2 linked regions of the Homo sapiens genome follow. The protein of the gene in region 2 interacts with the protein of the main gene of each other region in a pairwise test. Each region holds a gene or a part of one and is shown on either strand. Other genes may lie near its edges.

What was found.
Region 1: the proteins of LANCL2 (region 2) and TDRKH interact in binary tests that used the Homo sapiens proteins (3 or more experiments, as listed by UniProt).

What each region holds. Positions count from the first base shown.
Region 1 is NC_000001.11:151,776,687-151,780,601, forward strand, and holds part of TDRKH (tudor and KH domain-containing protein), read right to left. Parts: intron 3,455-3,915; coding exon 3,265-3,454; intron 2,557-3,264; coding exon 2,417-2,556; intron 2,321-2,416; coding exon 1,999-2,320; intron 1-1,998. UniProt on the Homo sapiens protein: Participates in the primary piRNA biogenesis pathway and is required during spermatogenesis to repress transposable elements and prevent their mobilization, which is essential for the germline integrity.
Region 2 is NC_000007.14:55,363,385-55,367,299, reverse strand, and holds the start of LANCL2 (lanC-like protein 2), read right to left. Parts: upstream 1,964-3,915; 5' UTR 1,275-1,963; coding exon 1,071-1,274; intron 946-1,070; exon of another isoform or gene 561-945; intron 1-560. UniProt on the Homo sapiens protein: Necessary for abscisic acid (ABA) binding on the cell membrane and activation of the ABA signaling pathway in granulocytes.

The sequences.
Region 1 (3,915 bases), on a different chromosome or scaffold from region 2:
ACCAATGGCTGTTACCATTTTAAAATGGCAGGAGAGGCAACTGGATGAATCAAACAAGAATATCCTAAAGAAAGATACTAAGCTATCCTTTGTACCTTTCCATGTAACTGAGTAATAACAGCTTACATTCTTTGTCATGTGCTACATAGTCAAATCGGTCACCAATTATACAGAAGGTAAACCTCCATATGCTAGCTACAGCATGGATCAGTAAAAAGGTATATGGACAGCAATCTTTACATGGACAGTGACGGACATGGACCTGTTCCAGATCCCATTCTACCACTGACTCTTTACATGACCCTGGACAAGTCTGTGAGCTTCTTGGGAATCCAGGTCCTCTTTGCCCACGCCAAAACCTATGTACAGAAGAGAAAGCTCACAGCCTTTTCAATAGTGATGATTTTTAAAAACAGTAATGAAAAAGGCAATATAAAATCTGGCTGAGAATTTTACTTGTTGATAAAGTATGTCTAGGCTGGGCATGGTGGCTCATGCCTGTAATCCCAGCACTTTGGGAGGCCAAGGTGGGTGGATCATTTGAGGCCAGGAGTTCGAGTCCAGCCTGTCCAACATGGTGAAACCCCATCTCTACTAAAAAATACAAAAATCAGTCGGATGTGGTGGTGTGCACCTGTGGTCTCATCTACTCGGGAGGCTGAGGCATGAGAATCACTCGAACCTGGGAGGCGGAGGTTGCAGTGAGCCGAGAATGCACCATTGCACTCCAGCCTGGGAGACAGAGGAAGACTCTGTCTCAAAAAAAAAAGTATGTCTAGAGGAACAATATCATGTAAATCCAATTATTTGATGTATTACTCATTTGTTTCCTGTGTCAGCATTATTTTGCCATTTCCATCAGCTGTTTTATATTTAGAAAAATATTTATGTTTAGTATTAATTCAAGTAAAATATTATTACCAGTAAGGAATATCTGTGATGATAGACATAAGTGTATTCATGAAAAAAGACTTTTTATTGCTTCCTATTTTGGGTAATCTAAGCCAGTATTTCTTTTTAAAAAAATAGTTAATTTTTTTTTTTTTTTTTTGAGACAGGATCTCACTGTCACCCAGGCTGGAGTGCAACGGTGCAATCCCAGCTCACTGTAGCCTCGACTTCCTGGGCTCATGTGATTCTCCCATTTCAGCCTCCCAAGTAGTTGGAACCACAGGTTGCGCCACCATGCCCTAAGCCAGTATTTCTTTTTTTTTTAAACAGAAAACCTAGGTTATTTGTTAAGCCGTTACAAAAACAAAACAATTACCATTTGAAGTACTTTGAGGACTTTATCCCAGACTCATTTGTTCTGTTACAGAAACTAACCTAAAAGGTTGGAAATTAAAGAATATAACCTAAGAGGTTATAACAGAGCGGGCTGGTAAAACATGGCGAAAGGAGCTCTCTCTTTCCCACCCTGTCTATTTATACCTCCAAGCTCCTGTGCATTCTCACCACATAGGTCTGCTAGCTTACATAAAATGCATACAGTGAAGGCAGGAATTATAGGCCTACTCAGAGGGTACCCAGACACAGAAAGTTTGGGGTAAATAATAAACTACAAATATCCTCTTGGTTAATTCATTTTTGTTAATAAAGGTCATGTATCTATCTTTTGCTGGTAACAACTTGTCTCAATATAGTCTGTCTCAAGAAAGAAGTAGTTCAGGTTGGGTTTTGGAAAAGGAAGAAGACTTTCATCAACTTTGCTTCAGAGTGGAAGAGGCACCAAGTTCTCTCCTACAATTAGGAGCAGAATCTTATACCTGCATAAATCATTTTCAGTGATCAACATCTGCACCCTCAAACTGTCCAGCAACTGTTGGTGTGGATTCTACCTCCATCCCATCTTCAAAATATCTTACCGAATCTTCTGTCCTGACCCCAGCCATATTATACTGGCTGCTCAGACTGAGAAGGCATTCCTTCTAATCTCTCCAATATCTAAGCCAGTATTTCTATCTTCAATGATTAATGGGCTCCCTCTTTGTTACATACTTTCAAACATGGGCATCTCTGGGATGGCCTGGGCTTCAGACTTCTGAAAGCTGTCATCACTAGGTTTCTCCCAGGAACCTTCCTTTGACACTACCACAGCCATGTCGCCTCCTCCTTTGGGTGGAGGAGTCACCAGGGGTGCAGTCGGCTCCATGCTAGAACTGGTGTTTTTCCATAATGCTGGCTCTCCAGCTCCACCTGGCTCTGTCATGTCTTCTCTTCTCACACTGATTGGCTGTTTGCGTGGGACCCTGGTTTCTGCAGAATGAGCAATTCTCTTCCGAAGTTCTTCATCTTCTGAAACTTTCTCCAGTATCAAATGCTGTGGAAAACAAGAGAAAGGATGATATTCTGACCTGGGATAGAGTAAAAGGATCTTCTCATGCTCAGGTATAATTCAAGTCTATTAGCTACTTGCCTTGGCTGCTGCCACTTCCTTCTGTGTTCCTGAGATTTTTATAAGTCTTGATAGTAGTAATGTCCCTTCTGATTCTTTGTCACAGGTAATTTTGGCTCCAGATGCCTTACAGATAGAACGAATTGTCTCGCCGCCTCTCCCTACATTAAACAATATATAAAAACCTGCCCTTCCCTCCTGGCCAACCTTAGCTACTGGAGAAATCACTGTTTTGTATATACTAGGAGAAGAGAATCAGTTCTCATTTCTAAAGTGAACAAAATACAAGATGTTGAATGGAAATCAGGAGCTACTGAAATCATTACTGTGAAAAGGAGAATACCATATTCTTTCCTTTTTCCATTTTATTTAAACTCTACACTTTGGCTAACTTCATGTCATTTTCATTTTGACCACTCAGCATGGCCATATCAGGTCACAAGAAGATATGCTACATAGTGTGTCAGAACACCGGATCAAGGACAGGACATTTCTCTGCCTCTAACAGCAGCACTAAGCAATGCTCTAGGGGAAAGCATAAAAGGTACCCTCTAGAGCACTGTCTTGAAAGACTTGAGATAACATGAGCATCCCAAGCTTCCCTTTAAAAATCAATTATAAGGTAAATATAATACATCTACTAGAACCCTTAAAGAATCAATTTGTAAGGTTCAGATCATACAACTTCTTGAGGAAACAGGTTTGGTTTTACCACCAGTTCTACAAACAGTAAACCTCTGGTCTCAATGTCCCTTTTTTTCCCCTCACATGGTGAAGGGGAACTAGGCCAGAAAAAACCCTGGGAAGGTGTGAAAGAGGGGCAAAGGTAAAGAATAAAGGAAACAATAGAGGAAGCCATCCAGTGGTACCTATGATTCTGCCCACAGATCTCTGGGGAACTGAAAGCTGCTCAGACACTGGGGTATTCTCTGTCAGGATCTGATGGATTGCTGCTTTGGCCTTGCACACCTGAACAGGAAAACCACTGATAAGCAGCACTCGCTCATCGCCTACATCCTCTGTGTCCACATCAATCCGAGCACCTGTCTGTTTCCGCAGCTGCAAAGAAAAGGACATTTGGCAGTACATTCTGGAAGAGCTCCCATTTGAGCCCAGCTACAGACACTCTAAAACAAACCCTGGAGGTAGATAGAATTAGCCAAAGGAATTAGCTAATACTATCTATACAACCAGTCCTCAATTACTTTATATACAACCTCAGTTACTATCTATACAACCAGTCCTCACTTTATGGAAGGAGATTAGTAACAAATGTAACCCCAAATAGCAGTAAATTCAAACCCATTTATCTTTGTGTTTAGAATCCTTTCCCCTTACTAATTTTATTTGGATTAGAGAATCAAATATTTTGTTTTCTTGACATTCCAGCTGAACAATGGAAGATGGTAAGAAGAACCAGGTAGCCATTCAATATTTACTGTCAATTAATGAGAGTTCATTAATTCCATAGTAGAAAAGGATAATTTGACCAGGCGCGGTGGCTCACGCCTCTAATCCCA
Region 2 (3,915 bases):
GAAGTGGCCATTGGAACACGTACCTCAGTGGAAAAAGAAAACCTGGTAAAGGTACGGTTTTACCAAGCATGAAAACAGTTGTGCTGATATTCAATCTTCTGTTTTATTCCCACTTTTTGCCTCCCACGTTAGATTCTGTTCAGATAGCCCGTGAAGGGTGACAGGGTATGCCATCCCAAAAATATGTCTCTGGCATAAGGATTATTTTAAGCTAAAAGCACTTGAAAAACAGAAGAGTGCTCTAAACTGCCCCCTTTTCTTCATGAAACAAGAGAAAACTCCTGTAAAACATGGCCTCCCTACACCAGGAACAAAGAAACACTCGGCACCAGAGCCGAGCAAGGCGGAGATTTCTACCTAGACGTGGTTCAAGCAGTTCCATCTTCCATTAGCCTCCCCGCACACTTTACTCTCCCACAGCTGCCGCTCTTGGTTCTGCCTAGCACAAAAGTATTTGGGTTTTGCCATTTCTTTGTGTCTTTTTCACGTAAAACATATTCAAGAGATGTATGTTTTTCTGTTGTTAATCTGTTTTATGTCAATGTAACGCTCTGACCCACCTCGCGACACTAAGAAAGTCAAGTTTGGCCTCCCCTTACACCCGCTTCCCATTTCTGGGCACACAGACAGTACGGACAATGCTTCTTTGTCGGCGAGAGCCCAGGGACCAGATATGGCCAAGGAAATCCAGCCTCCAGGCCACTTCTGAGGAGCAGGTAGCCGGCGGAGCGCTCCGCCGCGCAGGGGCGGGAGGTGTCCGCGGGCCTCACGAGTGCACAAGCCCGCATTGCGAAGCGCCGCTCGGGCCAAGAAGGAAAGCGCACTGTCCGCGTATTTCAAAGGCGCGTTGGGGCCAGGAGGGCCGAACTGCTGGAACGTGGTTCATGCAGCTGAAGCCCACGGACCCTAAGCGCGGCTCATCGGGAAGGCCCGGAGACAGGTGCTAGGCGCTATCATCCCGCGCCCTCCCAAGCCCGGCGCGCGCCTGTGACGTCACGCCTGGCGGAAGGTGGACGCTACCACCGCCGCGCTCCCCCTCCGGCGCCTCTGCGGCCAGGCCGCCGACTCACCTTCCCGTCCTGATGAAAAGGGAGGCCGGGCTCATCCGTGGTCGCCGGGGGACGAACACAGCCTGTCTCTTCGGCCGCTCCGGAGGCGAGCAGCGCCCCGGCGGCGGCCTCGTAGTCCGGGAAGGGGTTGACGAACGCCCGTTCCTCCATTTCTGCCTCCCCTCCCAGGTGGAGCTTCAGCCTCTTTGACATGGTCTCGCCCATCTCCGCCGCGGTACGGCGCGCGGGCGGGGACAAACCTCCTGTCCCGGCGCTGCAGCTCGCCCCGCCGCCGCCTCCTCCGAGGGCCCGCGCAGAGAGCGTCCTCTAGGAGGAGCGAGGCCGCGCGCTGGCGGGAGGAGCGGGGCGTCTGAGCGTGCACTGCCTCGTCGCGGGCTGCTCGCACATCAGGCGGCCGCAGAGGCGGTGGGCGCTGTGCCTCTGCCCTGTTCCTGGCGCCTTTGCCCTGCTCCCGACGGAGAGGAGCGGGCTCGCGGGAGCGCCCAGCGGCTCACAGCCTGCTCGCGCCTCCTCGCACCTTCCCCGTGGCCCGCAGAGCCCGTCCGCGGCGACGCGCACGGCCGGGGCTGGAGTCCCGGGGTGGGGATCGCTGCGCCCGGCCAGCCCCCTCCGCGATTTCCAAAGAAAACCGAACGCCCGCTAGGGCCACGCTCCCGCGGGGAAAACCTGTAGAGAAGAGGTCGCTGTCACTCAAGGTGTGTGCGCGTCGCCGACCGGGGCGAGCTCAGCCCCTGGCGCGCCGTCGTCAGCCTGCATTTCACCGGCCCCTGCTGCGCCAGCCCAAAGGAATAGCAGCAGTTCTTTGTTTGATATTAAGAAGAAAAAAAAAATCTCTTCTAAAGAACAGAATTTCAAAACAGTCTAAAACACTGCAAGGCTAGTCTCCGAGGGATGGGGGAGGGAGACAGTCCCTCCTATTCATCACTGTTGGAGGGGGGTGTCTGGGAGGAGGAGCCACAGGCCTTTTTTTTTTTCTTTTTATGTTTTATGTTCACTCCCTTTGTTTTGAATAAATGGACATCTTTGATACCGGGACATAAAATGAAAGCATACTTAATTATCCAAACATTTTATCGACCAGAAAGAGTCCTCCAGTGTTAATTGGCAAAGATCATAGTATGTATTATAAAAAGGACACAAGCAACCAGATCTTTACATTTATGTAATCGTGATGTGGTTTACTTCAGTCTTCATTGGTTCTCTTTATTTTTATTTGTTTGGACCAAATACGTGTAATGATTTCTGCTCCTTGAGGAAAATGTCTTATTTCCGTTTTCTTCCGCTCAGTAAACGTTGATTGAGCACCAAATGGTACTAGGTGATGAAGAAATAAGAGATTAAAAAGATAGTTTTGGCTCTCTGGGGATTCCCAGTTATTGGGTGAGAAAAGCAAGGATTACAGCATAGCTGATGTAGGTGCTTTTCTGGAAGCAAGCAAAAATACACGTTAATGTAAAAAGTGACATGATGAAGAAAAACACAGTGCCGAGCACAGGGAAGGCTCGGTTCCTCCTGCCTCCGTGGCCTCGGTGGAATGATGTGGGAAAGTCTGGCTTCCCACTACCTCTTCTAGTGTCCCCCCAACCCCACAGGGCTGGACATGTGAAACACACCCCACCAAGAACATGACCATGGGAAGGTACAGTGTAGAAGAAAATCATTTTAAAGGGGGTACTCAGCATAACTATCTTCAAAGTTCAGGGAAACAGAACAGATACAACAGGATGAGTGTTATAGCAGCATCCCTTAGCTCCACTTTCCTGCTTTCCCCTTTCCTGGGGTCTTTTCTCCCACCAAATTTTCATACCTAGACGGTGTAGGAAAATCCACTCCAGGAACTACTGATGCCGACATGCTCTAGGAGCCATCCTTATCCCACCACAGGGACTTAACTAGACAAAATAACCCACGGTGATATTCCCCAAAGTCTGGGGAACTATCACGCCTTGGACAGGTACAGCAGAAACGTCCACTGCGGGCTTTGTTAGGCTAAGCCTAGTGAATTCTCAGCTCTCCCTACCCAGGAGGGAGGTGAAGATTGTCTCTTCTTCCTGCAGTCTGCTGGTGGATAACTGGCAACTGTTGGCAAGTACAGAAACCTGTCCTAAAGAAAACCAATATTTTCAAAAGCTGAAAAATCGAAACCCAATTTAAGGAGTCGGCATATTTTCCTAAATGCTCTCTTATCGGCAGATCCCCTGCCCTCCTGGACAGCTCACTGACACTATTTTATGGAGAAGTGGTAGGTTCCCTTTCTTCAGCCTCCTGTCCCCTGGGGGTTTTTTAATGCAGAGCACAGGGGATTCCCTTCTGCGGCCCTTTTACACCCAGGGCTATCTTCCCCCGTGGCCACTCTTGAGCTCTTGAGTAGTACAGAGACCTTGGTCAGTGCCTTGAAATTACAACTTTATTTTCCTTAGGACAAGCCAAATTCTTAGGACACCCTCCCCACTCTTCTGTGTAAGAGAAGGGCAAGAGGACATACATGCCGGCCCAAAGCACACCCAAGGAGTCGTGAGGGCCCCTGGCAACTGACCTTTCAAAGGAAGACATAGTCCAAGGACACGATGTGCGAGAGGGCGGCATTGTGGCACCACGTTGAGATCTGGGGGGGCACTGGGCGGAGCAGCACCTGGGGAAGCCGCCGGGTGCGGTGCTTGGGTCACGGCCCTCCGGGGAGGCCACCGGGTGCGGTGCGGGGCAGGGCCCTACGGGGTGGCCGGCGGGTGCAGAAGTTGCTACCAGGGGAGGGTGTGCTCATCCTTGAAGATCTGAGTCAAAATAGGCAGTGTCATCCTCTTCCATTCCCCAGCACCTAACGTGGCTGCCCCAAAAGCCGCTGAGC